Regions from separate parts of the Homo sapiens genome. Here all the other regions are linked to region 1. Evidence: fine-mapped expression QTL. A gene starts in region 1. Each other region holds a variant in brackets. All regions are shown on one strand. Distances are between the middles of the regions.

Region 1 (8,157 bases):
CTGGGTCCCCAGCCACCCCCATGGCCCGAGAGCGCTGGGGAATGGCCGGTACTGTAGCTGAGCGAGGGGCTGGCTGTGGGCAGCCCCTGGGAGTGGGCGGCTGGCCCTGGGTATGGCTCGCCCTGCACCCCATACAGCTGCCCCTGCAGCTGGTCCGGGGAGTAGCTCTGACATGTGGCCAGGCCAGGAGGAGGGGGGCCGCTGGGGGGCTGTGGGGGGCCCCCTGAGTAGCTGGGGGCTTTGCTCAAGTCCTGTGCCTGCCCCCCTCCAAACCCTTGCCCGTAGGCCTGGGGTCCCAGAAGCCCTTGAGGCTGACCGGGGGAATAAGCCTGGCCCCCTGCCCCTCCAGCCCCAGAGGCCTTCCCAGTGGCATAGGCGGCTGCTGGCCCACCCAGGCTCTGACATTTGGGGGTGGCGGTCGAACGGGGTGGGGGGGGCCTGGTGGCACCCCCGGCAGCTGCTCCATAACCACCTTTGCCCGTCTTGTACCCAGGCGACTGAATGATGGGGCGGTAACCTCCACCACCACCCCCAGCCCCACCGCCCCCTGCTGCCTCAGGGCCCGTGGCCCGGCCAGATGCCCCAGCCGTGGCTCCGCTGGGACCAGCCTTGCTAGGCTCCCCAGCACCCGGGGAGGGCTCCCCACCACCCAGGGGGCTGCAGGCCAGGTTGGCCCGGTGGCCCATGGAGGGGTAGCTGCCTCCACAGCTCAGATAGTGCTGGAGCGCATGGGCTGGTGGCGGGGGTGGTGGGGGCTGGGCACTGGCTGGCCGCTGGTAGTGCTTGATGACCGTGTCCTGGCGTGGCAGGGCCCGCTCAGGCGGCGGTGGGCCCGGGGCAGCACCCGAGAAGTTATAGAGCTGTGGGGAGGACTGCTCGGCAGCGGCGGCGGCAGCGGAAGAGGAAGCCAGCAGGTTGAACTGAGTTGGGAGGTGGCGAGGAGGTGGTGGTGGGTCTGGGGGGCCAGGGCGGTAAGGGGGGGTCTGGGCTGGACCGAGACCAGCTGGCCCCAAGACACCGCCCCCTGCCAGGCGCTCGAAGCCCAGTGAAGAGGGCACCGTGGGTGCCTGCGAGGGCTTCAGGTGCAGCACGTCATGAGGGGACAGGAGCCCGTTAGCTGGAGGGCTGAATGGGGGGTCCTGGAGGCTGAGGGACGAGGGCACTGGGAAGGGGCGGCTGCCGAAGGAAGCCGGGTGTTGGTAAGCCGACAGGGCAGATGAGGACGGAAAGGTGCTGGAACCCGGCAGGGCACCCGAGATGAAGAGCTCCGTGGGGCCTGGCGTGTGCATGGCTGGAGATGAGGAAGACCGCGCGTCAGAGAGAACAGCGAGCCAGTCCCACCCTGGCCCTGCAGGGCCGGCGCTGGGCTTACCTGTTTGCCAGGAAGGACTGCGGAACTGGGAGAGGAGAGAGGAGGCGGAGGGGCCAGGCTGGGGGCCCCGGGATTCCAGGGCCGAGATAAGGTTCATGACGGAGGCGTCGGGCCCTGCTGAGCCCGCGTGGTGGAGGCCAGTGTCGAAGAGTCCAGAGAGGCCTGGCCGGGGACAGGGGTTATAGTCAGCCAGGTGGGGGTGGGTAGGATACAGTCAAGAGAGAAAGGGAAGAGGCCAAAAGCAAGTTGGATCAGGAAAAGGAGGGGATGGGAGAGAAAAGGGCAAATTCAAAAACAAGATGGATAGAACCAAGCTAATGAGACATGAATGAGGGGAGGGAAGGGGGAAAGGTGAGACAGTAAAGCAAGACAAGGGGCAATCCAGTCATAAGGACAGGGGGCCCAGGTAGGAAATGGTAGACAAAAGTGTAGAAAAATCTAGAAGCGAAAGAGCCAGGAGCAAAAGAACAGAGTCCTCAGTAAGGCTGGGAGGGAGACCAAATTTGGATATTTCCAGCAAGGAAGAGGAAAGGATGGGACAATGAAGTCTAAGAAAGACCAGAGAACGTGTCAGAAAGGATTGAGCTAAGTGGGAGGGTTCAGAAAAAAAGATGGGGAGGGAAAAAGGGAAGGAGCCAATCAGGAGGGTCAAGGGTCAAACTGGACAGCATCATGTCATTACCAGTACCCCTAGGAAGAGGGAACCAATCAGAAACCTTGGAGGCAAAGGCAAGGTGGGTAGAATAAGGCAATGGGGCAAAATAAGATAAAACAGGGCGGGCCAGAGAATTAGAGCCAATCAGGAAGAAAGGGAATCAGGAAGAAAGAATTCAGAGTTCCAAAGAGCCAAAAGAATAGGGCAAACCCAGAGGGAAAGAATTGGGGTGGGTTGGGGAGAGGCGGAAAAGCCTGGAAGAGAAGGTGGGATTTGGGGGCTGATGGTAACAGGGCCAATTGGAGCGAAAGGGGAGGGGCGAGGCAGGGGCGGACGAATCCGGCGAGAAATGAAGCAGCGACCAGCAGCCTCAAAGGCAACCAATCAGAGGAGACACAGCAAGGGGCGGGCCACGGCACGGGCCACGGCCAATTAGGAGGGGCGGAACTTTCAACAGCCAATCAGCTGCCTCGGGGGGAGGGGGAGGGCCAGCCCAAAGCGGGGCGGGATGGGGGCCGTACCTGCCGGGTGGTGGTTGGTGGCATAGCTTTGCAGTGGGTGGGGGGCCGCATAGGCCTGGCGGTGTAAGATGTCCGTCTCGGGGTGCGAGGTCCTGGAGCTGCCATAAACCAAGCTGGGGGGAAAGGGGAGACGTCAGGGGGTTCTTCCAAGCTGCCTTCTGAGAAGGAAGCTCAGAAAACCCCCCGGGGAGTTGGGGGGACCCTTCCAGCTGACCGGGGTGGGGGGTGTTAAGCTAAGGAACCGTAGGCCCTAAAGGGGAGAACACAAGGGAATCGGGGTGCTCAACTAAAGAGCCACAGAAATGGCCCCCACTCCAGAGCCCGAATAAAGAGAGCCCGGATAGTCTCACGTTTACAAACAGGCATGCTCAGAGACGAGACTAACACACAGAAGAGGGTCCAAGGCAGAGCAAGCGTCTTGATTTGCAAATGAGAGCCCTCCCCCGTCGACCCCACAAACCCCCCCCAGCCCCCGTTCCGGCGACACAGGCTATGGGGCCAACGCCAGAGGTCCACATGGACGCCTCCTCTTCCGTAGACACACGGGAACACATAGGCCCTGAACTTCATGGGGTGGTGCAGAACAAGTTGGGAGCAGGAGGAAGATCGGTTCCCAAGCGGCAACGGTTTGGGGGGTGGAGAGAAGAGGGAATAAGACCTGGGGAAAGTACCAGGTACAAGTGTGAACAAGAACACCGACCATCCCCGGGGGTTGAGGTTCAAATGCATGGGCCCATGCAATGCCAGGTATGTGTGCAAACGGGTATCCAACTCACCCGTGGGGAAGAAAAGATATAGACGGAGGAATCCCACACGGAAAATCCTGACACACTTGGGGTTATGCCCTGCTGGGAAATCCAGGTGTGTTGGGGGGGAGGTGCTGGGGATAGGTGAAGTGTGAGGGCGCCACACCAATAAGCAACAGGAAAGGGGCAGATTCACAGGTGAACACGCTGCCAGCCACGCACGCACAGGGCCCACGCTCAGACACACAAACACACACCCGGGAAACATCCGACTCTTCCCATGCAACGGCACCAGTCCGTGGCCAGACTCAAGAGGGCAAACGCTCCACTCCTTGCGATCAACTAGGATTCTCTGCCTTTGGGGGTGGGGGCATTAAAGGGGGCGTGTCCCAGACGCCTGACCCCCTCCCTTACACACACACAACCCCAGCTTAGGAAGGGGGCGGGGCCCCGTGCCCACTCTGCGCGCGGAATTCTTGGGGGGGCGCCTAGTGGCGCGGCCTCGCACAGTCCCGGAACAATAGGACCTGAGAGGGGGTTCGCGCCCCCCAGATCTGCGTTCTAATTCTTCTCTTCTTCCCACCTTTGCAAGAGCAGTGCCTGGGGCGCGGGGGGGAGGGGTCACCAAGCCGGGAATCCAAGGATGGGGGGAAGTCCAGGCCTTGCTTCGCCAGTCCCTCCCACCTTCCCAAGGCCTTCCCGTCCGAAATTGTTTTGCACCCCCATTTTCCCGCTGCAATTCTCCCTTTGCATGCCGGAGCTGGCTTTGGCGGAGTTTGCAATTTGCAAACTGGGGCGGCGGCGTTGTTACAAACCGAGGAAGGCCGCTCCCTTGCAAGCCGGAGGGGAGTTTGCGATGCACGCGTCGCCGGGCGGGCCCGGCCCGGCCCGGCCCGGCCCGGCTGGGCTCCCACCCCTTGGCCCCCTTCTCTAGGCCACCCTCAGCTCCTTACCTAGCTTTCGCTGACCTCTCGTAACTCCATCCCGCCCCGGCGCCGAGCGGGTCCCCGAAGCCGGCGCTGGGGTAGTTCCTGTCCATGAATTGGCCGCGGTGGAAATTGGGGGGAGGGGGAGGGAGGGAGGGAGGGAGGGGGCGCGCGCGCGCTCTCCTCCGCCGCCGCTCCCTCCGCTGCTGCTTTTTTTTCCCCCCTTTTCTCTCTCTCTTTTTTTCTTTGCAGCCGCCGAAGGCCCGGGAAGGCCCCGGGCGGGGGAGGGAGGGGGCAGGGGCGGAGGGGCGGGCAAGGGAGGGGGTGCAGTCGCTGAGCCAAGGAAGGGGGAAGGGGGGTTCCCCCTAGAGGAGGGAAGGGGGGAGGAGGGACCCCGCTGTCTCCGCCTTTGCCCCGGCGCTTGCGAGAGAAAAGGGGGGGCGCGCGCTCGGGAGGGGGCGTCCCGGGCGGCCCCGGGGTGGGTGCAGGCGCTGGGTGCTCGCTCTCTCGCCGCCGCCGCCGCCGCCTCCTCCTCCTCTGCGCTCACGGTGCAGCCATCTTTGCACAAGGCGGCTGGGGGAGGGGGGAGGGGAAGGGGGGGCGGGCGGCGGGGTGTCTGGCTGCGCTCCGCTTCCTCCCACAATCCCGTGCAAATGCAAAAAAAAAAAAAAAAAAAGGGAGAGTGAGAGAGAGACTGAGCGCGAGCAGGGCCTGGGGGTGTAGGGCGCGTTTGCACAGAAAACCAGTTCCGATGCGCCCGGGATCGCAGTTCATTTCATTATTATTTTTTGCATTATTTCTGCTTTTTTTGGTCTCCTTTCCGAAGGGTTTTTATTTAGGGGAACAGCTCAACTCCAGCTCCCTGGGTGCAATGCGAGCCTGCCCGCACCGAGCGCGCTTGCAAATATGCCCCCCGCCCTTTCCCTGGGTTACGAAGTGCCCCTGTACCGCACGGGGAGTGCACGAAGACACGCGTGTGCACAGGCGGGGCTCTGCGTGTGCGTACCCTGTGGCACTGGAGGGGGCTGTCAGGTCATATCTGCCCATACACAAGATGGCACAGCCGGGGCTGGGCTCCTGGGTCCGAATTTCCCCGCGCGTCTGCCTACCACGGGGGCGGAACTGACCAGTGCCCTCACGGTCAGGAGAGTGTGGGGGCCCGTGAGGGGCCAGGACACGGGAACACGTTGCCGAAAACATGTGTATATCCATACGCGGCGGAAACGCGTGTGCCAGGGCAGGCCTCGGGCCGGATGACCCCTACTCCCACCATTCCCCACTCCAAGTCCAGCTTCGGCGTCTATGAGGCCTAGCGGCTTCCGGAATCCGGTATGAATCAGGGGCACGGTTCGGAGAGCCGGGTCTCGAAAGCAGCTCTTCAGTGAGGCCTCCTGAGGCTGCAAGAGGAAAGGCACACTAGGGAGTCAAAGATCTGGCTGTTTTTCTCCCCCCTTCAACCAGGACCACTCCGACCGCCCTTGGCGTCTCAGCCAATCCAGGACCCTCTGGGCACAGGCCCCACCCTCCTATACGGCTCCACACATACAACGCTGGGCCACGCCCCTAGACCATTGCATGGGGCCCCGCCCCCGCACTCCAAGCCCCGCCCCAGGTAAGAAGGCCCAAATTCCAAGTCCCGCCCCTGAGCCCAGGTTCCTCCTCCAACGTGCCCACCCCTCTGCGCCCCGCCCCCGGGCAGAAGCCACGCCCCATACCTGGTGTAGGGGGGTGGAGGTGCGTCGTGTACCCCAGAGGCTGCCAGCGCCTGCTCATAGGTGGGGAGGCCTGGGGGTGGGGGTGGGGGTGGAGGCAGGGGCGTCGGTGGGCCCAGAGGGTTCAAAGGACTCAGAGGGCTAATGAGCCCGGCCCTGGGGACAGCAAAGGTACAGTTAGCAGAGGCAACTTACAGGATACCTAGACTAGGGAGGAAGAGAGGGGATCTAGGAGACGGAGACTCAGGGTGACACTGGGACAGAGCTGGAAGGGAGGTGGACTTCAGAAAAGGAGGGTCACCTTCAGCCTAGCCTTACACACAGAAAAGCGCCTCAAATGACAGGCAGCTGCACACAGACAGGTAGACACAGAAATCAGCAACCACAGAGACACACTCTTATTCAGACACACTCATGTGCACCAGATACAGGCAGAGCAATAGAGAAAAAGACAGCCCTGCCGGGTGCATGGCGCACACCTGTAGCTCTAGTTCCTCAGGAGGCTGAGGTGGGAGGATTTCTTGAGCCCAGGAAATTGAGGCTGCAGTGAACTGTGAACCGGCCACTGCACTCCAACATGGGCAACAGAGTGAGACTTTGTCTTTTTTTAAAAAAAAAAAAAAAAAAAAGGGCCAGGCGTGGTGGCTCACACCTGTAATCCCAGCACTTTGGGAGGCCAAGGCGGGCAGATCACCTGAGGTCAGGAGTTCGAAACCAGCCTGACCAACATAGAGAAACCCATCTCTACTAAAAATACAAAATTAGCTGGGCGTAGTGGAGTGCGCCTATAATCCCAGCTACACTGGAGGCTGAGGCAGGAGAATCACTTGAACCCGGGAGGCAGAGGTTGCAGTGAGCCAAGATCATGCCATTGCACTCCAGCCTGGGCAATGAGAGTGAAACTCCATCTCAAAAAAAAAAAAAAAAAAAAAGACAGCCCTGTAGAGAGGCAGGCCAACACACACCAAACAGACAGAACTCAGCCCATCCATATAGACAGGAACACAACACAGACGCACTCCTCACCAATTTCCCACACCCACTCAGGTGCTGCACCTGTTACCACTGAAACTGACATACCACAGACACCAAGACACCACAGGCTGCACCGTCGCAGCCTCACCAGATACAATATCCAGAGTCGTAATTCCACGGATACTGGTAATCTCAGTACCGCAAAGACAGGCTGGCAGCAAAAGTGGTCAGAGCTCCTACTGCGGGCCAGGTACTGAGGATCCAGACAGAGCGACAGTCGCCAAAACCAGACACAAGCCAGCTCACAGACTCACTCTCCAAATGACTGTGTCCTTAGGTCTTTCATCAGTGCCTGCCTGCCCCCAATCCTTAGCACATCCCTTTAGGTCAATGCTTCCTCCCTCCCCTGCTCTCCACCACCACCCCCTCCTCGCTGAAGCCCCCTTACTCTTGGGGACAGGGCTGCTGGCCTCGGTGCTGTCGCCAGCGCAGATACCAAAAGGCTCCCAGGCCGGCCAGGACAATGAGCAGGATGCCACCTGTCAGCCCCACAGCCAGGCTGGCCACATCCACTCGTCCACGCCCTGCAGGAAAGTAGGGAAGGGGAGACACTGTCTCGGGGACTGCCACCCACCCCAACATCAAAATTCCTTCCCACTGAGGGAAGAGAATGGACCCGGAAGCAGGCAGAGCTGGGGTCCCTTCCTAGCCCTGTGACCTCAGGAAATTCACCTCATTCCTTTCTCTGACCCTCCACTGCCAGTTCTGTAAAATGGGAACCATAACCCCTACCCCACTGTAAAAACCTAATGAGATTAGGCTGGATGTAGTGGCTCATGCCTGTAATCCCAGCACTTGGGAGGCCTAGGCAGGTGGATCGTTTGAGGTCAGGAGCTCAAGACCAGCCTGGCCAACATGGTGAAACCCTGTCTCTACTAAAAATACAAAAAAATTAGCCAGGCATGGTGGTATATGCCTGTAATCCCAGTTATCTGGGAGGCTGACACAGGAGAATCGCTTGAACTCAGGAGGTGGATGTTTTAGTGAGCCGAGATTGAGCCATTGCTCTCCAGCCAGGGCAACAAGAGTGAGACTTCATCTCAAAATAAAAAAAAACAAAACAAACAAACAAACAAAAACCAAAAAAACAAAACTATGTCCTGGCCAGGTGTGGTAGCTCATGCCTATAATCCCAGAACATTGGGAGGCTGAGGCAGGCAGATCACTTGAGGTCAGGAGTTTGAGACCAG
Region 2 (8,172 bases), 960 kb before region 1:
CTTGCTGTGAGACCTGCATCCCCTGGGAAACAGAATGACAGCCTCACCCTAGATATGGCGATGCAGAATCTGCAGTTTTTTGTTATTGTTATTGTTATTTTGAGACAGAATCTCACTCTGTCACCGAGGCTGGAGTACAGTGGTGCGATCTCGGCTCACTGCAACCTCCGCCTCCCAGGTTCAAGTGATTCTCCTGCCTCAGCCTCCCGAGTAGCTGGAACTACAGGCAGGTGCCTCCACGCCCAGCTAATTTTTGTATTTTTATTAGAGACAGGGTTTCACCATGTTGGTCAGGCTGGTGTCAAAACTCCTGACCTCAAGTGATCTGCCCGCCTCAGCCTCCCAGAGTGCTGGGATTACAGGCGTGAGCCACTGCGCCCGGCCAGAATCTGCCTCTTAACAAGATTCCCAGACAGCTGGACACACATTCATGTCTGAGAAGCATTGCTCCAGTTCACATAGTTTTCAGCTTTTTATGACTTTTAGCAGCACCCTTTTGTTGTAAACAAAATAACTATGCACAACCCTGTGAGAGAAAACAGATCGGATCAGCGTCCTTCCTAGGCAGGACCCCTATGAGTGGAGCTGGCGGGGGCCACGCCCCTCCCAACCTGCAAACTCGCTCTCACGCCCCACTGCCTGAGCCTTGGCAACAAATACTGTTGTAAAAACCACCAATGCCAGGCCAGGGCCCAGTTCTCTTCTGGGGTGAATTCAGTTCAGGGGTGTTAAGCCGCCCCATCCCAGCACAGAATCACAGTCCAGGGACCTGGAAGTTCAGTTTTTTTTCTTTCCTTTTTTTCAGACAGAGTCTCGCTCTGTTGCCCAGGTTGGAGTGCAGTGGCGCCATCTCAGCTCACTGCAACCTCTGCCTCCTCGGTTCAAGTAATTCCCCTTTCTCAGCCTCCCCAGTAGCTGGGATTATGGACGCCCGCCACCAGGCACGGCTAATTTTGTATTTTTAGTAGAGGTGGAATTTCAGCATGTTGGTCAGGCTGGTCTCAAACTCCTGACCTCAGGTAATCCGCCCACCTTGGCCTCCCAAAGTGCTGGGATTACAGGCGTGAGCCACCACCCCCGGCCCTCTTTTCTTTTTCTTTTTCTTTTTCTTTTTTTTTGGAAGTTCAGTTTTTATCTCAAAGCCTACCCAAATCTGGCTATCCATGGGTATGGCAGTGCCTCAGTGTGCCCTTCTGTAAAATGGGCAGCAGCAGCTCTCGCCATGGGCCCCTTGCGGGGACTGAATGAGCTCTTGCAGGCAGCTCCCGCAGCGCAGGCCTGGCACAGGCAACCAAGGCAGCGCTGGTCAGGTGCTCAGGCCTCAGACTCTCCATAACATTCCATTTCTCCAGCTGTGATCTCCCTGGCTTCTCCATGAGTCCCATAAGAGCCCTGTGAGGTAGCTGGGCAGGGCCAAGGAGCAGACGGAGCGGCACTTCAGGGACTCAGGCAGAAGCAGTTCCAAGCAGGATCAGTGGTTAGATCCATGCTGTCCAACACAGTAGCTGCCACAGCCACTGCCATGCATGAGCAGCAACAGTCACATCAAGTCGAATGAAGAATTCAGTCCCTGCTCCTTCTCGACATACGTCACGTGCTCCGTAGCCTCGTGTGGCTGGTGGCCACCAGTGCTGGACAGCACGGAGAGAACATTTGCATCATTGCAGAGAGTCTGTTTGACAGTGATGCATTGATATATTGAAATACAGCCGGGTGCCGTGGCTCACGCTTATAATCCAGCACTTTGGGAGGCTGAGGCAGGAGGATTGTTTGAGGCCGAGAGTTTGAGACCAGCCTGGGCAACATGGCAAAAGCTTATCTCTACAAAAATACAAAAAAATTAGCCGGGTGTAGTGGTCCACGCCTGTAGTCGGCTACTCAGGAGGCTGAGGTGGGAGGATCACCTGGGCCTGGGAGGTGGAGGCTGCAGTGAGCTGAGATCACGCCACTGCACTCCAGCAGAAATTTGTGTGATGTGTGTGTGTGTATGTATGTATGTGTGTGTGTATGTGTGTGTGTGTGTGTGTGTGTGTGTATGTATACAGTTGACCCCTGACCAACTTGGGGGCTAGGGGTGCCAGCCCCCTGTGCAGTTGAAAATCTGCCTGTAACTTTTGACTCCCCTAAAACTTAACTCCTAATAGTGTTCTGTTGATTGGACACCCTACCAATAACATAAACAGTCAGTTAACACATTCATGTTAAATGTATTCTATCCTGAATTCTGACAATAAAGTAAGCTAGAGAAAAGAAAATGTTATTGAGAAAATGCTAAGGAAGAGAAAATACATTTACTAGCCACTAAGTGGAGTGTATCATCGTAACGGGCTCCCCTGATTGTCTTCACGTTGAGTAGGCTGTGAGCAGGAGGAGGGGGCGGTTGTCTTGCTGTCTCAGGAGTGGCAGAGGCAGGAGAAAGTCCACATATAAGTGGACCACACGATTCAAACCCCTGTCCTTCAAGGGTCAAGTGTAGTCCTCCGCTGGCTGGTAAATAGCTCACCTCAGCCCTTCCTGGGTCCCCACCACCCCCCACCCAGCCCTCCCAGCCCTCTTCTGAAACCTGCTGTTAATTCCCATTTCTCTGATGAGGAAACTGAGTGGCCACAGGGTACTGTTCCTAGCGGAAAATTGGCAGCACCGGGGGGTCGGAGCCCAGGTTTCTGCTTTTCCTGGCTTCCAGCCAGGCTCCGAGTCCTATATGTCACTTGCTGGTCACTTGCTGTGTGCCAGGCCCTACTTGGGCCCCCTTGCCACAGCCCCATGCAGCATCATCAGAGAGGCTGCAGCTGGCCCAAAGTGGCACAGCCAGGGACTGGACGGGAGCCGGGTGGGCGGTGTGTCCCCAGCTCCCCTGCTGCCCTGTGGGTGTGACCAGAGCGAGGCACCGCCTGTGAGTGGAGATTGGGGCTGGGGGGCCTGTGGCAGGGACTTTTGCATTCTCTTCTCCCCGTAACTGCTTCCCGCCCCACATCCTCTTCTGGCTTTTGGAATTTGACCCCAGATCTATAAGAAGAGCCTGGCTCCTCCCTCTCCCTCACCTCCTACACCGCCTCCAGGTTCTGCCACTTTTACAAATTTGCTTTATCTGTTCACTCTTTCCCTTCTCTCCATCCCCGTGGCTCCAGCCGCGGCCTCATCCTCTACCCCCGGACCCCTGGCGCAGCTCCTCCCTGGCCTCCAGCCGCGCCGCTCCAGTCCACTCAGAGGGGTCCTTCACCCACCAGAGCTGAGCCTGCCCCTCTGTTGTCACAGCCCGTTGTGAGAGGAAGGAGGGCCCCCCCGCCCCCGGCCCATTGCCACGGCCTCTGTAACAGCTCGACATTCCCTCCTCCCGGCTTCCCTCCTGGACGTTCCGGGGCCCACCCTGTGCCCGCCCTCTCACTTAGCCCTCGGACGGCTCCCCCACCCCCACACTTGCCTCCCTAGAGACCCAGGGCTCCTTGCCTCGGGTGCCAGCAGAGGAACTGCCGGTAGGGGGCGCTGGCTCGCTCGTTCCTGCAGCAAATACTGAGGCTCGGAGGGGCCAGCGCCGTTGGCCGGCCTTGAGGATGCAGCCGTGGACGCCGCGGCAAAGCCCTCAGG[G/A]GCTCCCCTCTTAGCAGGAAGGCAGGCAATGAACGCAGGAACAAATCACCGAGCATCAGGTGCTGGGTGGCCGTGACACGAGCTGTGAAGAAAAGGAAGTGCAAGGGATACGGACGGTAGGGGGAGCTCAAAGAAGACCTCCTGGAGGTGTCGTGGGAACGCAGAGCCCCCCCTGACCCCAGGAAGAGCACCCCCGGCTGGCCGAGGGCACAGCAGGGGCAAAGTCCCCTCAGGGGAACGGGTCTGGTGTGGATGGGAAGAGCCTGGGTGGGAGGCGCCTGGTGGGTGGGAGGAGCCTGGGGGAGAGCGGCGTGGCTGCACGGGAAAGGACAGCCCCCCTCCAAGCAAGTCACCACCTCACCCCCACCCACTGCACCTCACCCCCACCCCGACTGCACCCCCACTGCACGGGCCGCCTGTTGGTCCTGCTGCCCAGTGGCCAGTGGCCCGGGAAATTCGTGAGCTGAGCCAAGCCCCTAGTCCTGCTTCCTCATCAGCAGCTCCTAGGGGGCCTGGACTGCCCTTTCCCTAAGGTTCTTCTACCTCCAGACATAGAAGCCTGACAATTCTCGGCGCTGTGGGGCTGCTTTTATTTTGAAAGCATTCAGGACATGGATTGGCTCAGAACGCCAGCGCTGCCTGTCCCCTCCCCCAGAACCCGGGTCTCTCCCATAGGACCGGCTTCCAGGGACAGAAGGGCTCATCCCTCCCCGGCTTCAATCCCTCTCCACCCTCTGGGCTCCAGGCTCCACTTCTGCCCCAGTCCCTCGCAGTGGGGAAGTTCTTCTCTAGCTCTAACCTCCAGGCCTCTTGCTGCAATGGTAGTCAATTTCCTATCTTCCCTCTGGCCGTCTGAATTTAGCCCCCCACCCCACCCCAAAAAATGAGTGCGCCTGACAGGAACGTTCCCTGCCTCCCATTTCTCCTCACCCCGCCTCTCCTGGGTCCCCGAGTTTCCGATCTGCCATCTGCCTGAATCCTCCCAGGCACAGTGCCCGAGATCTCTCAGAGCTGGGGCTGGGGAGGATGGCGAAGCCGGTGAGGACTCAGCTTCACGCCTCGAGTGCCCGGGCCCTCCCAGCCTCTGCCTTCGCCTGGATCTCAGCTCCATCTCGGGGCCTCCTGTCCTCCTGCCCCTTTCATGCCCCTTTGTATGCCTGTGTCTGTCTCCCTGTGACTCTGCCACTCTCTGCCCCTCGTACTTCTCCTCTTTGGGGTCCTTCTGTGTCTGCACCTCTGGCTTGTTCCTTGCACCAGGTGAGGGAGGAGAACAGGTGTACCCTTGTGATGGGTCCTCTCCCGGGGCAGCTGCGGTGGGAGAGGCAACCGTGGTGACCTGGCTAAGTTCTGGGACTGGGGTTCCAATGCCGGCTGTGCTGCTGGAGGGCTGTGTAACCTTTGGCAAGTGCCGCTCACCTCTGAATCTGTAAAATGGGCACAAGAACCATCCCTTCCTCCCAGGGCCGTGGGGAGAAGCCAGCAGCTTGAGGAGTGGATAGCATGGCACCCACATGTAATCAGTATTTCCCATCACTACTAGGGGTGCGTGGGGGCAGAGGGCAGTCCATGGAGCCTCTGCCAGCCGGGCGTGAAGCCGTGGTGGGGTGTCGGGCGTGTGATATCCTGTGCAGTGCGGGTGACTGCAGGGGCTGAGGAAGGGTGGCTGTTCAGCATGCCTGTGGCCTTGCCTGCACCCTGCCCCCCACACACAGGCAGCCTCCATGGGAATTGTTGCTGCTGTCAGGCCACACTTGGGGGTCTTTGGGGCCCCTGGACTCTGGCAAGGCTGACCTAGGAGGGGCCACTTCCTAGCCGTGTGTTTCGCATTAGGCAACTAACAGTACCTCTGTGTGTCTCAGCTTTGCTAGCTGGGAACTGGGTGTAATAGCAGTCTTCTCTCAGAGGGTTGATGTGAACTGCGGTGGCTAATGCAAGTAAAGCTCCCAGAATGGTGCCCAGTCAGTGCCAGATGTGTGTTGGACGTTACCACCTTTGGTGGTGTCATTATTCAGTGAGTTCACGCAAGTCAGATGTGTGTGCGGAAGAGATGAGGTTAGCCAGCATTCCTGTTATCCAGGTCAGAGGGCTCTATCTGGGGACAACTGGGGCCAGGTGCCCTCTCAGTATGCAGCTGTATCCAGGAGTGTAGCTCACGCAGGTGGTATCTGAGGTTTGGGCAGAGTGGTAGCTTTCCTCTGGGTGCACGGAGCTGCGCTGGGGACCTCCTGTTTGGAACCTGAGGTGTAGTATCTGGGACTTAGCCATCCGGGTGGTGCTGGGGCACGGAGGGTGACCCAGGGCATGGAGGGTGACCCGGGACATTGGTGTCCAGCTGACGTGAGATGTGTGCTTCCTCGGCCAGGTACGGTGGCCCACACCTGTCATCCCAGCACTTTGGGAGGCCAAGGCAGGTGGATCACTGGAGGTCAGGAGTTCAAGACCAGCCTGGCCCACATGGTGAAACCCCCGATTCTAACTTAAAATACAAAAATTAGCCGGGGTGGTGGTGAGCGCCTGTAGTCTCAGCTACTCAGGAGGCTGGGGCAGGAGAATTGCTTGAACCCAGGAGGTAGAGGTTGCCATGAGCTGAGATCGCGCCACTGCACTCCAGCCTGGGCAACAGAGTGAGACTCTGTCTCAAAAAAAAAAAAAAAAAAAAGGTGCTGCCTCTGCCAGCAGGCCTCCTGGGATGGAAGGGGACCTGGGGACCGAGGGTGTCCAGGGCTGGGAGCCTGCATTGTGCAGCTATTGCAGTGCGGCCTGGCTCGGTGTGCAGAACGGAGAGTGGGGGTATCTGTGTGTGAGCGTGGGGGGAAATAGACTCACAGTGATGATAACGTACCCATCCGTCCCTGCACCCAGTGTTTGGTGAGCAACTGCCATGTGCCCAGCACTGTTGTGGGTCCTGGGAACCAAATAGTCACAAACTGACTGCCCTCGGGAAACTTGCCTTCAAGCGCACGGACCCATATAAAAGCTCAGATGCTGATAAATGTCATGGAGAAAAAGGAAACAGAGAAGGTTCTGGAGAGGGATAGGGGTGCTGTTTGATGCGGGGCGGTCAGGACGGCCTCACTGAGAAGGTAGCATTGGAGCACGGACCTGATAGAGAGCAGGGCAAGAGCCCTGTGGACAACCGGCAAAGAGCATTCCAGGAAAAGGGAAGAGCAGGTGCAAAGGCCCTGGGGCCGGGGTGTGCACGGCCTGTTCTGGAAACAGCGAGTGAGCAGGGGGAGGAGGGAAGCGATGAGGTCAGAGGAGGAGCTGGGGTGGAGAGTGGAGACCTGAAAACTGAAGTCCTCATCTCTGCTCTGAGTGGGACGGGAGCTGTGGAAGGCTGTGGAGCAGAGGCGGGGCAGGGTCCATGGGGTGTTGACAGGATACCCCTCGCTGCCCGTGGGGAACGCACGGGGAGTGGGGGTGAAGGCAGAAATGGGGAGGCTGGAGGGGAGGACACTGTAATCGTTCAAGAGGGAGATGGGAGCCAGGTCAGGGAAGTAGCCTGGGCGTGGGGAGAAAGATCCTCTGATTCTGGGGTCTGATTCCGCATATGTTGTGAAGACAGAACTCTTTACCAAGGATTTAGCGATTTAATCCCCACAGTGGCCCTAGGAGGCAGATACTCCCATTATCCCTGTTTCACAGTGGAGGGAACTGCAGCTTGGGAGAATAAGCCACCGGCCCGAGGTTACACGGGAAGTGGCAGCAGAGTCAGGACTCAAACCCAGGCCTCTCGGCACTCACCAATGTGCCCCACTCTCGAGAGGTGCCTTTTGTGGCCCATGGGTGTCCTGGGCTAGTGTCTAGCACATAGCAGGGACTGGGTAGACATTTGTTGGACAGATGGATGGAAGGATGGATGGGTGGACGGATGGATGGATGGATGGATGGGTGGATGGATGGGCGGAGGGATGGAAGGACGGATGGATAGACGGATGGACGGATGGGCGGATGGATGGACGGATGGATGGATGGATGGATGGATGGATGGATGGATGGATGGACGGATGGGCGGATGGATGAATGGATGGATGGATGGATGGATGGATGGATGGATGGACAGATGGATGGACGGATGGGTGGACGGATGGATGGACGGATGGATGGGCGGATAAGTTGAATGAATGAACGTGGCTGCCCTGCAGATTTTGCAGAAGTGTGTCAGGAGGTGGATGTCAGGATCTGGCTAAGGTCCAAGGGAGAGGGGTTCCTCTAGGGGTGGGGGCCTTTGTGGCATGGAGAGGGGCTGGCCCTCAGCCACGGGACGGGGTGACGGTGCAGGGCGCAGGTTCCAGTGCCGGTATATCAGGTGTGGTATATCAGGGTTGGAGTAAAGGCTGTGTGGCATGGTGGGGGTTCAAAGGAGTTCCTGGGGTACAGGGGCATCTGCAGGAAAACGCTGGGCAAGATTGTGTGCCTAGACCCAGTGGGGGGTGTGAAGCTGGGGGGTTTTGGCTGGAAGTGGGGGCGAGGGGGTCAGTGGTGGCCCAGCCCGGTCATGCAGCCAACGAGGCTGTCTGTGTGCCATGAGGCTCCGGCTTGGCACGGCCCAACCACCCCCCTTTCTTGGGCAGCCCAGCCGGCAAC
Region 3 (8,172 bases), 41 kb before region 1:
CTGCAGTGTGGATGGCATCCCAGCCCGGCTGGACAGTGAGGGCGGCAAGGATGGATGATGGATGGGGGTGGTGTCAGTGGGGGCTGAGGGCTCTTGGGGGTGACTGCGGGGAGCCTGGTCCCCACGATGGCCCCTCTCCCTGTCTCTGCAGTCCTGGACACCGCGGGCCAGGAAGAGTTCGGGGCCATGAGAGAGCAGTACATGCGTGCTGGCCACGGCTTCCTGCTGGTGTTCGCCATTAACGACCGGCAGAGGTGACAGGGGTTGCTGGTGGCGGAGCAGTGGGTGGGTGTGGGGAGGACCTGGGCTCTGCAGCTGGCTGGACCTCATGCCTCCGGCTTCACTCGCAGTTTCAACGAGGTGGGCAAGCTCTTCACGCAGATTCTGCGGGTCAAGGACCGCGACGACTTCCCCGTTGTGTTGGTCGGGAACAAGGCAGATCTGGAGTCACAGCGCCAGGTTCGGGACACCCCTCTTTCTGGGGACCCCATCTCAGTCTGGGAGGCTCCTTCCAGCACACCTGTCCCCCATCAGCATCCTCCTCTGTTCCTGCAGTGCTGCGACTGCCACTGTCACACAGCTCACCTAGATGGGTTACCCCCAAACTGGACCTTCAGGGTCCCCGGCATCACCGAGCAGAGGGCCTAGCATGCAAGTGTCCTCAGGAGAGGCTGCTGGACGGAACAAAGGACATTCACCCCCCGTCCGCCAGCTCTCTTTGCCCCTTCCTCGCATTCCTCCCTTCCAGCCAACCTCCCACCAGCCCCAGCACCTCCCCTGCTCATGGCCGGCCCCCTCCATGGCTCCCCAGTTCCTCCCCAGGTGCCAGATGCCCCGCACAGTTGCGCCCCTCCTTTCCCTGCTCCCATCACTTCCCCCACAACGATTTCCACACAGAACTCATCCATCTGGCAAAGGCTCTGGGGATTTCCAGGCTTTGGGGTTCCGCCTGCCTCTGCCGGGAACACCCTGACTTCCCTGCCTGCCCACTCCTGGTTATCTAAGGCATAGCAGGGCAAGTGCCCACGAAGCCTGCCCCCATCCCTTACTTAGAAGACACCAAGCCCCTGCGGCATCTCCCTCCATAATCTCTCAGGAGCTCTTCCTCTTTGAGTTCTCACAGTGGGTCACCTCTCCTAGAGTATCCAGCCTGCCTGTCTGTCTCTCTGGCTGCGGTCACCCTGAGTGCAGGGACCTGACTCCCCCGTGTCCCCCCTACCCCCAGGTCCCCCGATCAGAAGCCTCTGCCTTCGGCGCCTCCCACCACGTGGCCTACTTTGAGGCCTCGGCCAAACTGCGTCTCAACGTGGACGAGGCTTTTGAGCAGCTGGTGCGGGCTGTCCGGTGAGCCAAGTCCCCTTCCTGTCGTCCTTGTCCCCAGCCCTTCCACTCCAAACTCACTGGCGTTTTCCCACAGGAAATACCAGGAACAAGAGCTCCCACCGAGCCCTCCCAGTGCCCCCAGGAAGAAGGGCGGGGGCTGCCCCTGCGTCCTCCTGTAGCCCAGGCAAGAGAGAAGCAACCACCACAAGCTCTCGGGACTAGCTGCCTTCGCACCTTGCTGTGTGACCTGAGGCCCTCACTGAGCCTCAATTTCCTCATCTGGGTCTCCCAGGACACATCACATACCCACCCTTACTTCCTGGCCTCTTCTGGGCTACTGCCACTGTGTGCCTTCTGCCAACGCCTCCTGTCCCCACCTAAGCCTGGTGGGGGTGAGGGGCTCCGGGTCACTGCTGTATATAACTCCCCTCCCCCAGAAAAATAAATGTCACTGCCAACGTCAGGAGGTGCTTTCTAAAAAGGTAATGAGGGTCGGGCACTGTGGCTCACTCCTGTAATCGCAGCATTTTGGGAGGCCAATGCGGGAGGACCGCTTGAGTCCAGGAGTTTTTGACCAGCCTGGGCAGCATAGCGAGACCCCCATCTCTTAAAAAAAAAGGGTGGGGGAATGAACTCTGGGAAGGTGAACGAATTCAGGGCACACATGTTCTAAGGCCTCCCTCCACCTAGAACCCTCGCATCTAGAACCTATTGCTTGGGGAGGAGCAGAAGAAGTTTATAAAGCATAACCAAGTGCCTAGACCCCCCACTTTCCCTTCAACAGGGCGATTCTACCCTTTTCTGTTTGTGTGTGTGTGTGTGTGTGTGTTTTTCTGAGATGGAGTCTCACTCTGTAGCCAGGCTAGAGTGCAGTGGTGTGATCTCAGCTCACTGCAACCTCCGCCTCTTGGGTTCATGCCATTCTCCTGCCTCAGCCTCCCGAGTAGCTGGGACTACAGGCGCATGCCACCACGCCCCCAGCTAATTTATTTTTTGTATTTTTAGTAGAGGCGGGGTTTTACCATGTTAGCCAGGATGGTCTCAATCTCTTGACCTTATGGGTATTTTCTTGGGATAAACTTTGAACATCTGATGAAGGAATTTTTTTTCCTAGAAAGTTATAGAATGCGCTCTTCAATATGGTAGGCAGAAGCTACATGTGGCTATTTAAATTAAAATTAAATAAAATTTGGCTGGATGCAGTGGGTTATGCCTGTAATCCCAGCATTTTGGGAGGCTGAGGTGGGCAGATCGCTTAATCTCAGGAGTTCGAGACCAGCCTGGGCAATAAAGTGAGACCCCCCCCCGCCCCCATCTCTACCAAAAATACAAAAATTAGCTGGGTGTGGTGGCACATGCCTGTAGTCCCAGCTACTCAGGAGGCTGAGGTAGGAGGATCGCTTGAGCCTGGGAGACAGAAATTGCAGTGAGCCAAGGTGATGCCACTGTACTCCAGCCTGGGCGACAGCAAGACTGTCTCAAAAAATAAATAAATAAAAAATAAAAAAAATAAAAATAAAGGCCAGGCGCGATGGCTCACGCCTGTAATCCCAGCACTTTGGGAGGCCCACGCGGATGGATCACCTGAGGTCGGGAGTTCAAGACCAACCTGACCAACATGGTGAAACCCTGTCTCTATTAAAAATACGAAAATTAGCCGGGCGCATTGGTGGGCGCCTGTAATCCCAGCTTCTCAGGAGGCTGAGACATGAGAATAGCTTGAACCCGGGAGGTGGAGTTTGCAGAGAGCCGAGATTGTGCCATTGCACTCTAGCCTGTGCAACAGAGCGAGACTCCGTCTCAAATACAACAACAACAACAAAATAAAAAATATTTTAATAAAACTTAGTTCCTCAGTCAAATCAACATTTCAAGACCTCAGTTGTCACATGTGGCTAGTGACTTTTTTTTTTTTTAGACAAGAGTCTCGCTCTGTCACCCAGGCTGGAGTGCAGTGGCAGGATCTCCAGTTGCTGCAACCTCTGTTTCCTGGGCTCAAGTGATTCTCCTGCCTCAACCTCCTGAGTACCTGGGACTACAGGCGCATGCCACCATGCCCGGCTAATTTTTGTATTTTTGGTAGAGACGGGGTTTCGCCACGTTGGCCAGACTGGTCTGGAACTCCTGGCCTCAAGTGATCTGCCCACCTCGGCCTCCCAAAGGGCTGGGATTACAGGCGTGAGCCACCGCACCCAGCCTCTAGTGGCTATCTTAATAGATAGGGCAGATAGACAACATTCCTATCATTGCTGAGTGGGCTATTGGATAGTGCTTTCTAGAACATTCCAATAGAACGTTCTAGGACATTGGAGACAGGCAGCAACTCAGCTGGGTGTGGTAGCTCACGCTTGTAAGCCCAGTACTTTGGGAGACCGAAATGGGTGGATCACTTGAGGCCAGGAGTTTGAGACCAGCCTGGGCAAGAGCTAGACTCTGTCTACAAAAATAGAGACAGGGAGCAACTGCTACAAACCCTGCCTGTCCCACTCTCACCTTCAATGTATATCGAGAAGGGACAGGTGGGTGGAATGGTGTCCAAGCAGCCGTCTGGCAAGTCCTCATTTTCAGAAAGTTCCCAGTAGCACTGAAATCTGAATCTAAACACTTAATCCAATTTGGGGTCAGTGTGGACATCCCCCATCCAACCCCCTATTCTGTCCTGGGAGAAGCAGAAGTGTTG[G/A]GTGTCTTAAGGCCACAGTGGGTAAATGGATGACACACTTCAGTCTGGATACCCAAAGCCCATCTGTGTCCTAGGAACACTTCGTTTTTTACATTTTATTTATTTATTTGAGACAGGGTGTCACTGTGTTGCCCAGGCTGGAGTGCAGTCGCGTGATCACAACTCTGTAGCCTCAACCTCCTGGGCTCAAGCAATCCTCCTGCCTCAGCCTCCCAAGTAGCTGGGACTACGAGTGCACACTTGGCTAATTTTTCATTTTGTTGTAGAGATGGGGTCTCGCTATGTGGCCCAGGCTGGTCTTGAACTCCTCCCTTTAAGCAATCCTCCTGCCTCGGCCTCCCAAAGCTCTGGGATTTACAGGCATGATCCACCATGCCCAGCCTGGGGACACTTAGGACTCTCCCACATCCAACCTAAGCTCTGGTTGGGGGAGGAGCAGTCCTGCCCACTATTTGCTACCCTGGAAGGCTGAAGCCAACTGGAGACCACTGTCCACCCACCTCCCAAGCCTGTGTGACCGGCCATCTTTAAAGCCCCAAATCTACCCAACACACCAGGCTAAAAACCTCAACCGGCCGGGCGCGGTGGCTCATGCTTGTAATCCCAGCACTTTGGGAGGCTGAGGCGGGTGGATCACAAGGTCAGGAGATCGAGACCATCCTGGCTAACACAGTGAAACCCCGTCTCTACTAAAAATACAAAAAATTAGCTGGGCATGGTGGCAGGCGCCTATAGTCCCAGCTACTCAGGAGACTGAGGCAGAAGAATGGTGTGAACCCAGGAGGTGGAGTTGCAGTGAGCCGAGATTGCGCCACTGCACTCTAGCCTGGACGACAGAGCGAGAGTCCATCTCAAAAAAAACAAAAACAAAACAAAACACCTCAACCGAGATGTCCCGATGCCCTGAACTTGAGGCTCCACCTGAAACCTATCAGCAGTCAAACATCTGCTCCCTATACCCAGGCCCCTGATCCCTGAATGCTCTACTCGCACCCACCCTGGAACCTGCTTCCTAGTCCTAGGGTGGAGCATGGCCTTTGCGTGACCGGGATGCCTGAATTCAAATCCAGCTCTGCCACCTCAGTCTCATCTGTAAAATGGGGGTAAGTACAAAGCTACTTCACAGGGTGAGCACGAGACTAAAGGAGACGATTGCAGAGGAGGAATGAGCCCGGCGCATACTAAGTGCTCACCATCAATGACTGTGGCTGACATGTCTCCATTCTGCCCCAGAACCATGAATGTCCCTCTGTATCCCGGATTAGAACACGGATTAGCAGGCTGGGCGCAGTGGCTCACGCCTGTAATCCCAGCACTTTGGTAGGGCAAGGCGGGCGAATCACCTAAGGTCAGGAATTCGAGAGCAGCCTTGCCAACATGGTGAAACCCCCCTCTCTACTAAAACTACAAAAATTAGCCGGGTGTGGTGGCGGGCGCCTGTAATCCCAGCTACTTGGGAGGGTGAGGCATGAGAATCGCTTGAACTCGGGAGGCAGAGGTTGCAGTGAGCTGAGATCGTGCCGTTGCACTCCAGCCTGGGCAACAAGAGCGACACTCTGTCTCAAAAAAAAAAAAAAAAAAAAAAAAACTGATTAGCTAAATATCCCTTTCCGGGTTCTATTATCACAGAATCTTTGGCCTGTTCTCAACCTTCTGCCCTGGGAAAAAGTACAGCTCGGATGTACTGTCACATGTTGGCTCTCTTCCCTGCTAGGAACTCTGCACACCAGGGGTCCACCCCTGCTGGATGGGGAGTGGTGGGGCAAGAGGGTGGGCAATGTTTTGATCAGTTTCCAAACAAGCTCTGACACTTCCACCTAAGCCCCAGCTGCGGGTACTGAGCCCCCAACAGGAAGGAGTCCTGTGCCAACATCTCTCTTCCCAGATCTCACCATCCACATGCCCCCTGCAGAGGATCAGAGTCTTTCCTGCACTGCCCGATGGGGCCAACTTCTTGGCTGGGGCACCCTGCTTCTAGTAGGACCAAGATGCACTTTGAGAAGGTGATTAAAGTTACCGCTTGCCCCCCAAATGCTCAAGACAACTGGCAGACCATTTTTGGAAGGTTTACAGCCACCAGTGTCCCAAAGATCAACACACAACAGCAAAAAGGCTGGCATCTCCCTAGGTACTGTTAGTGCCAGAAATTATGTATTCGGTTCCTCCCCTCCCCTGAGCTCTGGCAGGCCCTAGCAACGATTCTAAAGCTTTCCAGGTTTTGATGTCCCCATCTTTTTTTTTTTTTTTCAAGACGGAGTCTCACTCTGCCGCTCAGGCTGGAGTGCAGTGGCGTGATCTTGGCTCACTGCAACTTCCATCTCCCAGACTCAAGCAATTCTTCTGCCTCAGCCTCCCAAGTAGCTGGGATGACAGGCACCGGCAAGCATGCCCGACTAAATTTTTTTTTTTTTTTTTTTTTGAGACAGTGTTTCACTCTTGTTGCCCAGGCTGCAGTGCAATGGCGCGATCTCGGCTCACCGCAACCTCCGCCTCCCGGGTTCAAGCGATTCTCCTGCCTCAGCCTCCTGAGTAGCTGGGATTACAGGCATGCGCACCACCCCGGCTGATTTTGTATTTTCAGTAGAGACGGGGTTTCTCCATGTTGGTCAGGCTGGTCTTGAACTTCCGACCTCAGATGATCGTCCCACCTTGGCCTCCCAATTTGCTGGGATTACAGGCATAAGCCACTGTGCCCGGCCATACCCGACAAATTTTTGTATTTTTAGTAGAGGCAGGGTTTCACCATGCTGGCCAGGCTGGTCTCGAAATCCTGACCTCAGGTGATCCATCCACGTTGGCCTCCCAAAGTGCTGGGATTACAGGTGTGAGCCACCACGCCCGGCCAATGTCCCCATCTTTATCTTTCTCTGTGTCTCTTTGTTTTCTGTCATGTTGTGGACCTCTGTTAAGCTTCTCTAGATCTCCTGCTACAGGTCACAGGAGCTGCAGGCCAGGTGCTCCAAACCGGTTGTCTTCCTTCATTTTGACAAAAGCCCATTTAATGGATGGCAAAGGTGAAGATGGGGTCTGTTACCCAATCTGCCTGGTTAGTGCTGCAGCTGGGATTCTAATCTGGGCAGCTGGATGCCAAAGGCCAACCACAAGGTGATTCTGTCCCTAAAGGGATGATTCCTGACCTCACTGTCCACGCTCACAACACTCCACTCCCGGCCGAGCGCGGTGGCTCATACCTCTAATCAATCCCAGCACTTTGGGAGGCCAGGGCGGGTGGAGTACCTGAGATCAGGAGTTAGAGACCATCCTGGCCAACATGGTGAAATCCCGTCACTACTAAAAACACAAAAATTAATTGGACCTGGTGGCACGTGCCTGTAGTCCCAGTTACTCAGGAAGCTTGAGGCAGAAGAATGGCTTGAACCCAGGAGGCGGAGGTTGCAGTGAGCCAAGATCATGCCACTGCACCCAAGCTTGGGTAACAAAGCGAGACTCTGTCTCAAAAAGAAAAAAGAAAAAGAATACTCCACCCGTTTTCCATCCTGGAACTCTGACCTGGGACAATGCCAATCCTTTGGCCTCAATTTTAGCTTTTTTTTTTTTCTGGAGACATGAGGATCTCGCCATGTTGCCCAGGCTGGACTCAAGCAATCCTCCTGCCTTGGCCTCCCAGAGTGCTGGGATTATAGGCATGAGCCACTGTCACCTGGCATTTGGCCTCAGTTTGACAGTCTAGTCCAGGACCTTGAATGTATGGCTTTCCATCAAAGGCTGCACCCCCACATGCTATAGGCCACAGTTCAAGCACAATAATGGTTTGTACTCAGCCCTCTTAACTCAATGATTCTAGAAAGTTCATGATCCTTTTTAAAATTTTTTGAGATGGAGTCTCACTCTGTTGCCCAGGCTGGAGTGCAGTGGCGCGATCTGGGCTCACTGCAACCTCAGCCTCCCGGGTTCAAGCGAGTCTCCTGCCTCAGCCTCCTGAGTAGCAGGCACAAGCCACTATGCCTGGCTAATTTCTGTAATTTTAAGAGAGATAGGGTTGGCTGGGCACAGTGGCTCATGCCTGTAATCCCAGCACTTTGGGAGGCCAAGAAGGGCAGATCATGAGGTCAGGAGTTCGAGACCAGCCTGATCAACATGGTGAAACCCTGTCTCTACTAAAAATACAAAAATTAGCCGGGAGTGGTGGCATGCACCTGTTATCCCAG

What was found.
Region 2: its variant is fine-mapped to the expression of PRR12 in gastroesophageal junction (GTEx, PIP above 0.99).
Region 3: its variant is fine-mapped to the expression of PRR12 in whole blood (TOPMed, PIP above 0.99).

Annotation. Positions count from the first base shown.
Region 1 is chr19:49,587,831-49,595,987 of GRCh38, reverse strand. PRR12 (proline rich 12) reads right to left here and starts at 4,806. Exons shown (of 14, transcript NM_020719.3): 1 at 4,248-4,806; 2 at 2,549-2,661; 3 at 1,373-1,534; 4 at 1-1,291. The coding sequence starts at 4,333. It overlaps PRRG2 (proline rich and Gla domain 2), which reads right to left. Exons shown (of 7, transcript NM_000951.3): 5 at 7,356-7,491; 6 at 5,936-6,088; 7 at 4,984-5,617. The coding sequence ends at 5,599. RefSeq lists silencers at 2,458-2,557, 4,118-4,367, 4,528-4,857, 5,718-5,877, 5,888-5,987 and enhancers at 3,068-3,147, 3,635-4,134, 7,202-7,261.
Region 2 is chr19:50,552,064-50,560,235 of GRCh38, reverse strand. The region is part of intron 1 of LRRC4B (leucine rich repeat containing 4B); the gene reads left to right. Among named protein-coding and RNA genes, the nearest start is that of LRRC4B, 12 kb to the left of the region's middle. RefSeq lists silencers at 3,705-3,764, 3,865-3,974 and an enhancer at 7,563-8,172. The variant G/A (reference allele first, on the strand shown) is at 3,586.
Region 3 is chr19:49,628,906-49,637,077 of GRCh38, reverse strand. RRAS (RAS related) reads left to right here. Exons shown (of 6, transcript NM_006270.5): 2 at 1-35; 3 at 152-254; 4 at 351-459; 5 at 1,226-1,344; 6 at 1,418-1,786. The coding sequence ends at 1,502. Among named protein-coding and RNA genes, the nearest start is that of RRAS, 7.2 kb to the left of the region's middle. RefSeq lists enhancers at 317-883, 4,003-4,502. The variant G/A (reference allele first, on the strand shown) is at 4,004.